Homo sapiens: one gene and its partner. The protein of the gene in region 2 interacts with the protein of the main gene of each other region in a biochemical or structural test. Each region holds a gene or a part of one and is shown on either strand. Other genes may lie near its edges. The genes, in order: EIF4E and EIF4ENIF1.

Region 1 (3,818 bases), on a different chromosome or scaffold from region 2:
GCTAAATTAGCCTTTACTTTTTTGTCCAAGTAGTTTATAAACCTAGAAATACTGGTCATTTAATTTTTTTTCCTTTTTTTTTTTTTTAAATTCCCTGATAGAACCTGAGATCGGTCATTTAGGATGTAATTTCCAGTGAAATTTGCTCATTGAGAGAACACTAGCCTAAGAGAGTAGAGAGAGGAATATGGTAGGATTTTGCAGTAGAGTTTTGTTTTTAAACTGAATGTAAACTTAAAACTATTTAGTGTCTATAGGAAGCAATCTTAAAAATAAGGTTAGATACCTTAAAATAGAACTTGTTTCTTGAAATATTTTTTAGTTCCCATATAGATCATACGAAAAGATGACTGTCTATGCCCAATAAAAATTTTTATGGTATTTCACATCATTCGTTTTAAAATCTAGTATGTTTAAAAGTGAAGACTAAAGATTTTAAATTAGTATACTTACTGATTCATACATACACACATATTTAAAAATGTGTAGCTCCTTTTTTAAGTTGTTGGAAAAGTACAAAATCATGTGTCCTTTTTTGTTTTGTTTTGAGACTGAGTTTTGCTCTTGTCGCCCAGGCTGGAGAACAGTGGCACGATCTGTGCTCACTGCAATCTCTGCCTCCTGGGTTCAAGCAATTCTCTTGCCTTAGCCTCCCCAGTAGCTGGGATTACAGGCGCGTGCTACCACGCCCAGCTAATTTTTGCATTTTTAGTAGAGATGGGGTTTCACCATGTCGGCCAGGCTGGTCTTGAACTCCTGAGCTCAGGTGGTGCACTTGCCTTGACCTCCCAAAGTGCTGGGATTACAGGCGTGAGCCACCATGCCCGGCCGATTATGTGTTCTTGATATGAAGACTATAGTAATCAGTTACTTACAGTGGGACTTTTATTTTAATTCAAAATAACACTTTAAAATTCTAGGAACTGAATATGTTTTTCCTGAGTGATAACTTGCTTTTAATTCCTGTATGTCCAAAGACTTGAGAGAGAGAGAGAAAGAGGATTGTTTCTTTTTCTTTCTTCCCCTTTCTTCACTGGGTCTCACTTGCTGAGGCTGTTTTCGAACTCCTGGACTCAAGCAGTCCTCTCGCCTTGGCCTCTCAAAGTGCTGCAATTACAGACATAAGTCCCTGCACCCGTTCTGCTTACGTTTCACAAATACTGGGCAGTTGCAAGTTTTGGCTTAGCTGTTCTTCTCTGTTAGGCCAACCAGAGTTACGCTCTGAAAGTGCCAGTTTAGGAGTTAGCCAAAAACCTGTGAGGGATTTTTACATATATTGAGGAGCCCACTTCTCATCTACAGCAGTTTTTCTCTGGTACCCTGTCCCCCAAAGCCTACCTGCCTGCCAGTCTCTCATTGTTTTCATCGAGACTCCCACTGTCTGCCTGGAAACCCATCATTAATTTTAAGCTAGTGGGATAGGAAATGTCATTCAGTAATTATCTGTTTGAACACTTAAATTTACTGGTAAGTAAATGTTGATAAAAATGTTTGGTTTTAAGGCATTACTTACTGTATGTCAATTTTCAGGCCTTAATCATTCTGTGTAAACATTTAAATTTATTCAGTTAAGTAATCAAGTTAATAAGTTCCTGTTGGGTTAAGTACTGTGATTATTGAGTAAAATCAAGACATGGTCTCCGTTCTGGGTGACTTTATAGGCTAATAGAAATTCTTGTACATGTCATATGTTGATAAGAAAAAACATATCCCTTGGGAGGCCAAGGTGGGAGGATTGCTTGAGCTCAGGAGTTTGAGACCAGCCTGGCCAACATGGTGAGACCTTGTCTCTACTAAAAATAAAAAAGAATTAGCCAGGTATCATGGTGCCTATCTGTAGTCCCAGTTACCGTGGAAGCTGAGGCAAGAAGATTGCTTGAGCCAGGGAGATTGAGGCTGCAGTGAGCTATGAGTGAGACCCCATCTCTAAGAAAAATAAAATACAAAAAAAAAAAAAACCCATATTCTTTCAAATAAATATTTACCACCTTTCTGCTCTGCATTCTTTTAGACAATAAATATTTGACTTACATATCTTGTTATGTTAACATAGATCTCTGTTGTTTGCTGCTTCAGTCTGATATCCAAACACTTGTTGCATTGCCCTTTTTTTGGTATCAGTCTTTGTCCTAGTGCCTTTCTTTGGCTCTCTTCTTTTGTTGACAACAATTTATGATAGTATGAAGAGCTACATGGAAGAATGTGGTGAACACCTATTTTAAATTACTGCCCCCAGACTACTTTTCTTTCTGATATTTTTAGATGACAGTGTTAATTTTGTCTAGCCTAAAAGAAGATTTAAGTTCAAGCCAATGTCCATCTTGTTAGGTTCCATTGAAAATATTAAGTTGCCGAACTTTTAGGTTACGATAGGGTAAACAGTATGCCATGAAGGTAAGACCTGCGCATCATTGGCTTGATCACTTTACAAAGCTTTTTTGTCATCATAATGTTGTTTTGTTTTGTTTTGTTTGTTTTTGAGACAGGGTCTTGCCGTGTTGCCCAGGCTGGTCTCAAACTCCTGGGCTCAAGCAATCCTCCTATTAATCCTCCTATTAATCTCCCGAGTAGCTGGGATTGTAGAGACGCACCACAGTGCCCAGTGATACAGTTGTTATACTCTTGAAACTTTAGTTTCCATCCTGTATCCTTCCTGATACCCCCTTCAGTACCATATGCAGTATCTTAATATGATGGTATGTTAAGAAAGATAGAAGATTTTCCCAACTTTGTTGCATAGTCTGTGACAGTCTTCCTGCTATTTAAAAAAAAAAGTGCAAGTGGAAGGATAACTATAAATACTGTTATATTTTCAAATTTGAGAAACCGTTTGCTCTTTGCTCTTAATGAAGAGATATGAGAATAGAGAATGGTTCTTTAGAGTTTGGTCTGTGGTCTGTTTTATGAAGCAATCTGCTTTAATTCCTTCTTCTTAAAAAATACTACTAGTGCCGGGTGTGGTGGCTCACGCCTGTAATCCCAGCACTTTGGGAGGCCAAGGCAGGTGAATCACAAGGTCAGGAGTTCAAGACCAGCCTGACCAACGGGGTGAAACCCCGTCTCTACTAAAAATACAAAAATTAGCCAGGCATGGTGGCACACATCTGTAATCCCAGCTACTTAGGAGGCTGAGGCAGGAGAACTGCTTGAACCTGGGAGGAGGAGGAGGTTGCAGTGAGCCAAGATCGCACGACTGCACTCCAGCCTGGGCAACAGAGAGAGACTCTGTCTCAAAAAAAAAAAATTATCAGCATATCAGTTCAGGTTTAGTTAGAATATTGCTGTCATAGATGTGTTAAGACATTTAAAATAATGTTTTATATTATTTTCCACTAGGAAACCACCCCTACTCCTAATCCCCCGACTACAGAAGAGGAGAAAACGGAATCTAATCAGGAGGTTGCTAACCCAGAACACTATATTAAACATCCCCTACAGAACAGGTAAGCTTTCTAACACCTAGGTTTTCTGAGTTAGGCCACAAGGTAAATTGTGAATGGGGCAAGTTTGAAGGGAAAGTTAGATTATGAGACTAGTTTTAGATATGCTAAGGTTGAGGGTTCTATTTTCACTTGGATGACCCATGACCAGCAGACAGTTTTATGTGTGAGTCTTGAGTTCAAAAGGAGCTATGTGAGAGATTAGTTTGAAAAGTATTGGTCATAATGGAAGCCACATTAGTAAATAAGTTCCCTTAAGGAGAAGTGAACTTGACTCAGGACAAAGACCGGGGATACTAGCATCATATAGGAGGCTTTTGTTGAAGAAGAATGCCTATGAAGGATGGACATACAAAGACAGTGGTGGTCGCCCAACGC
Region 2 (3,818 bases):
AAAGGTGTTTTTTTTTTTTTTTTTTTAATCTATCCTTTTGGAGTTTTTTTTTTGAGACAGGTTCTCACTCTCAGGCTGGAGTGCAGTGGCATGATCATAGCTCACTGCAGCCTCAAAACTCATGGACTCAAGTGATCTTTCTTGCCTCAGCCTCCCAAGCAGCTAAGACTACAGGTGCATGCCACCACATCCAGCTAATTTAAAAAATTTTTTGTAGAGATGAGGTCTTGCTGTGTTGCCCAGGCTGGTCTGAACTCTTAGGCTCAAGTGATCATCTTGCCTCAGCCTCCTAAAGTGCTGGGATTACAAGTGTGAGCCACTGTGCCTAGCCTGGAAAGTCTTAACCCATAGGAACTTACTGATCACGAATGAATTCATTAAGATTACCATATGGCGAATATAAGAGTTAATACCTGAGACTTCACTTTTTGCACAGGTTACTAAAACCTGACTAGGCAAGAACAAGCTGCTAATTGCCCAAGAGCCACACACCCAAGGAAGCATAAACATATTTTCTTAGTTGCAGCAGCCTTCCTTAAAGAAAATGTGTCAAGGCTCCCAAAACCTATTGGGGAATTACTAGTATGAACACCCACTTTTGGTGATCACTATTAAAGTGGAAAGCAAATGAATCTCAACAAAAGCCCAAAAGAACAATGGTTAAAATCCTTATCCATTTCTTTCTGCAGAAATCCTATGCAGAAACAACTATGCATTCTGATGGACCTTCTGACATTATGTAGAATTTCACATAAGTCACATTTATGGAAGGGGGATTAAAAGGGAAATATTCCTGGGCGGGCGTGGTGGCTCACGCCTGTAATCCCAGCACTTTGGGAGGGTGAGACGGGCAGATCACCTGAGGTCAGAAGTTTGAGACCAGCCTAACATGGAGAAACCCCATCTATACTAAAAATACAAAAAATTAGCCGGGCATGGTGGCGTGCGCCTGTAGTCCCAGCTACTCGGGAGGCTAAGGCAGGAGAATCGCTTGAACCCGGGAGGCAGAGGTTGTGGTGAGCCAAGATCACGCCATTGCACTCCAGCCTGGGCAACAGGAACAAAACTCCCTCTGAAAACAAAACAAAACCGAACAGGCAGGGGCCGGGTGCAGTGGCTCACGTCTGTAACCCCAGCACTTTAGGAGACCAAGGTGGGCAGATCACTTGAGGTCAGGAGTTTGAGACCATCCTGGCCAACATGGCGAAATCGTCTCTACTAAAAAAAAGAAAATCAGCTGGGCATGGTGGCACACACCTGTAATCCCAACTACTCAGGAGGCTGAGGCAGGAGAATCACTTCAACCTGGGAGGTGGAGGTTGCAGTGAGCCAAGATCGTGCAAGACTCTGTCTCAACAATAACAAAAAAGGAACGGGTAGGAAAAAGCAGTCAGAAGCTATTCTCTATGGTCTTGCCAGCCAGCCTGCTCTAACAACTTCCAGTAAGATAGGTTTTCTGGACAGTTGACACATTAAGATTGAATAATTTTTTTTTCCTTTGAGACAGAGTCTCACTCTGTTGCCCATGCTGGAGTGCAATGGTGCAGTCATAGCTCACTGCAAGCTCAACTTCCCAAGCTCAAGTGATCCTCCCACGTTAGCCTCTTGAGTATCTGGGACCACAGGTGCACACCACCACCTCTGGCAATTTTTTTTTTTTTTAACGAGATGGGGTCTCACTATATTGCCCAGTCTGGTCGTGAACTCCTGGACTCAATTCATCCTCCCACCTTGTCCTCCCAATGACTTTTCATACCATAATTCTACCTTCTCCAACATAAATAGGTATCCTTAAATTAGTTTAAGAAGTTTATACCTAAATTTGTCACAGAAATGCCACCTGAGTTACTACTCAGTTTATAAAAGATACATTTAGTTATCAAATAAGATTTCTGTACTGGAAAAAGGGACCACCTGATTCCTGTTTCAACCTAGGATTTAAATCAGTTACTCTTTTCTCTGGGGATTGGCTTCAAGTCTTCTGATTATATCCAAGAAGGCTAGGATGACTCAAGTCAGTCACTTCAACTGCTTGTCCATTTTCCTGATTGTTTTAAAGGAAAGACAAACATGGCTGTACTGACTGCTATGACCAATTGGCCTACCAGCCACAAATTAGGATGGCCTCCCTTAAAGATCCCTGGAGACACTAATGACTACAATAATGCCACTTTGTAACTAGTCAAGGTTATGAGGAGTCCACATGGGGCCAGATGCAGTGGCTCACACCTGGAATTCCAGCACTTTAGGAGGCTGAGGCAGGAGGATCGCTTGAGGTCAGGAGTTGGAGACCAGCCTGGGCAACATAATGAGATCCTATCTCTACAAAGAAATGAAAAAATTAGCCATGTGTGGTGACACACACCTGTAGTCCTAGCTACTCAGGAGGCTGAGGTGGAAGGATCGCATGAATGCAGAGTTCGAGGCTGCAGTGAGTTAACTGTACCACTGCACTCCAGCCTGGATAACAGTGAGAGCCTGTCTCAAAAAAAAAAAAAAAAATTCCACATGAAGTTAAACTAAGATAATTCAACATTCACTTAACTTTAATACGCATGTTTAACACTGGTCAGTATCAAGCTGAATGTTCTGAGTGTCTCTGCTTTTATTCCCTGTCCAACTGGCAGGTGACAGTCATTTAATAAGGAATCAGTGGCAAAACACAGGAGCAAAGGAAGAACAGCATAACGTATGTATCCTTTATAAGATTAGTCTATTTGGCCGGGTGCGGTAGCTCACGCCTGTAATCCCAGCACTTTGGCAGGCCACGGCAGGTGGATCACTTGAGGTCAGGAGTTTGAGACCAACCTTACCAATATGGTGAAACCCCGTTTCTAATAAAAATACAAAAATTAGCTGGGCATCATGGCACGTGCCTGTAATCCCAGCTACTCAGGAGGCTGAGGCAGGAGAATTGCTTGAACCTGGGAAGCAGAGGTTGCAGTGAGCCAAGATTGCAACACTGCACTCCAGCCTGGGTGACAGAGTGAGACGCGGTCTCAAAAACAAACAAAAAAAAACAGATTAGTCTATTCACTTGACGAAAATAACATGGATGTGAGGCCAGGCGTGGTGGCTCACGCCTGTAATCAGAGCACTTTAGGAGGCCAAGGTGGGTGGATCATGAGATCAGGAGATCGAGACCATCCTGGCCAACATGGTGAAACCCCATCTCTACTAAAATGTAAAAAAAATTAGCTGGGCATGGAGGCACGCGCCTGTAGTCCCAGCTACTCAAGAGGCTGAGGTAGGGAAATTGCTTGAACCCGGGAGGCAGAGGTTGCAGTGAGCCGACATAGGGCCACTGCACTCCAGCCTGGCGACAGACAGAGACTCTGTCTCAAAACAAAAAAACAGAAAAGAAAACCACATGGATCTGAATAGTGGGATGGCCTAAAACATTTCTATTTTGTATTTCAAGCAGAAGATGGCATCACTAACAGAATAGCAGGTACTATATTCCAGAACTGGTGAACAAGGGCTTCTGGTGAAGAAAAAGTTGAATGAGCACCACTGCCAGGAGACGATCTTTTTTTTTTTTTTTTTTTTTTGAGACAGGGTCTCTTTTTGTTGCACAGGCTGTAGTGAAATGGCGCGATGATGGCTCACTGCAGCCTCAAACGATTCTCTCACCTCAGTCCCCTGTGTAGCTGAGACTACAGGCAATACGCCACCATACCTAGCTAATTTTTAAATTTTTTTTGTAGTGACAGGGTCTTGTCATCCTGCCCAGGCTGGTCTTGAACTCCTGGGCTCAAGCAATCCTCCCATCTCAGTCTCCCTAACTGCTGGGATTACAAGTGTGAGCCACCACACCC

The links.
Region 1: the proteins of EIF4ENIF1 (region 2) and EIF4E interact in far-western blotting, tested with the Homo sapiens proteins (one study listed by BioGRID).

Annotation. Positions count from the first base shown.
Region 1 is NC_000004.12:98,901,501-98,905,318, reverse strand, and holds part of EIF4E (eukaryotic translation initiation factor 4E), read left to right. Parts: intron 1-3,336; coding exon 3,337-3,443; intron 3,444-3,818. UniProt on the Homo sapiens protein: Acts in the cytoplasm to initiate and regulate protein synthesis and is required in the nucleus for export of a subset of mRNAs from the nucleus to the cytoplasm which promotes processes such as RNA capping, processing and splicing.
Region 2 is NC_000022.11:31,479,681-31,483,498, forward strand, and holds part of EIF4ENIF1 (eukaryotic translation initiation factor 4E transporter), read right to left. Parts: intron 1-3,818. UniProt on the Homo sapiens protein: EIF4E-binding protein that regulates translation and stability of mRNAs in processing bodies (P-bodies). Plays a key role in P-bodies to coordinate the storage of translationally inactive mRNAs in the cytoplasm and prevent their degradation.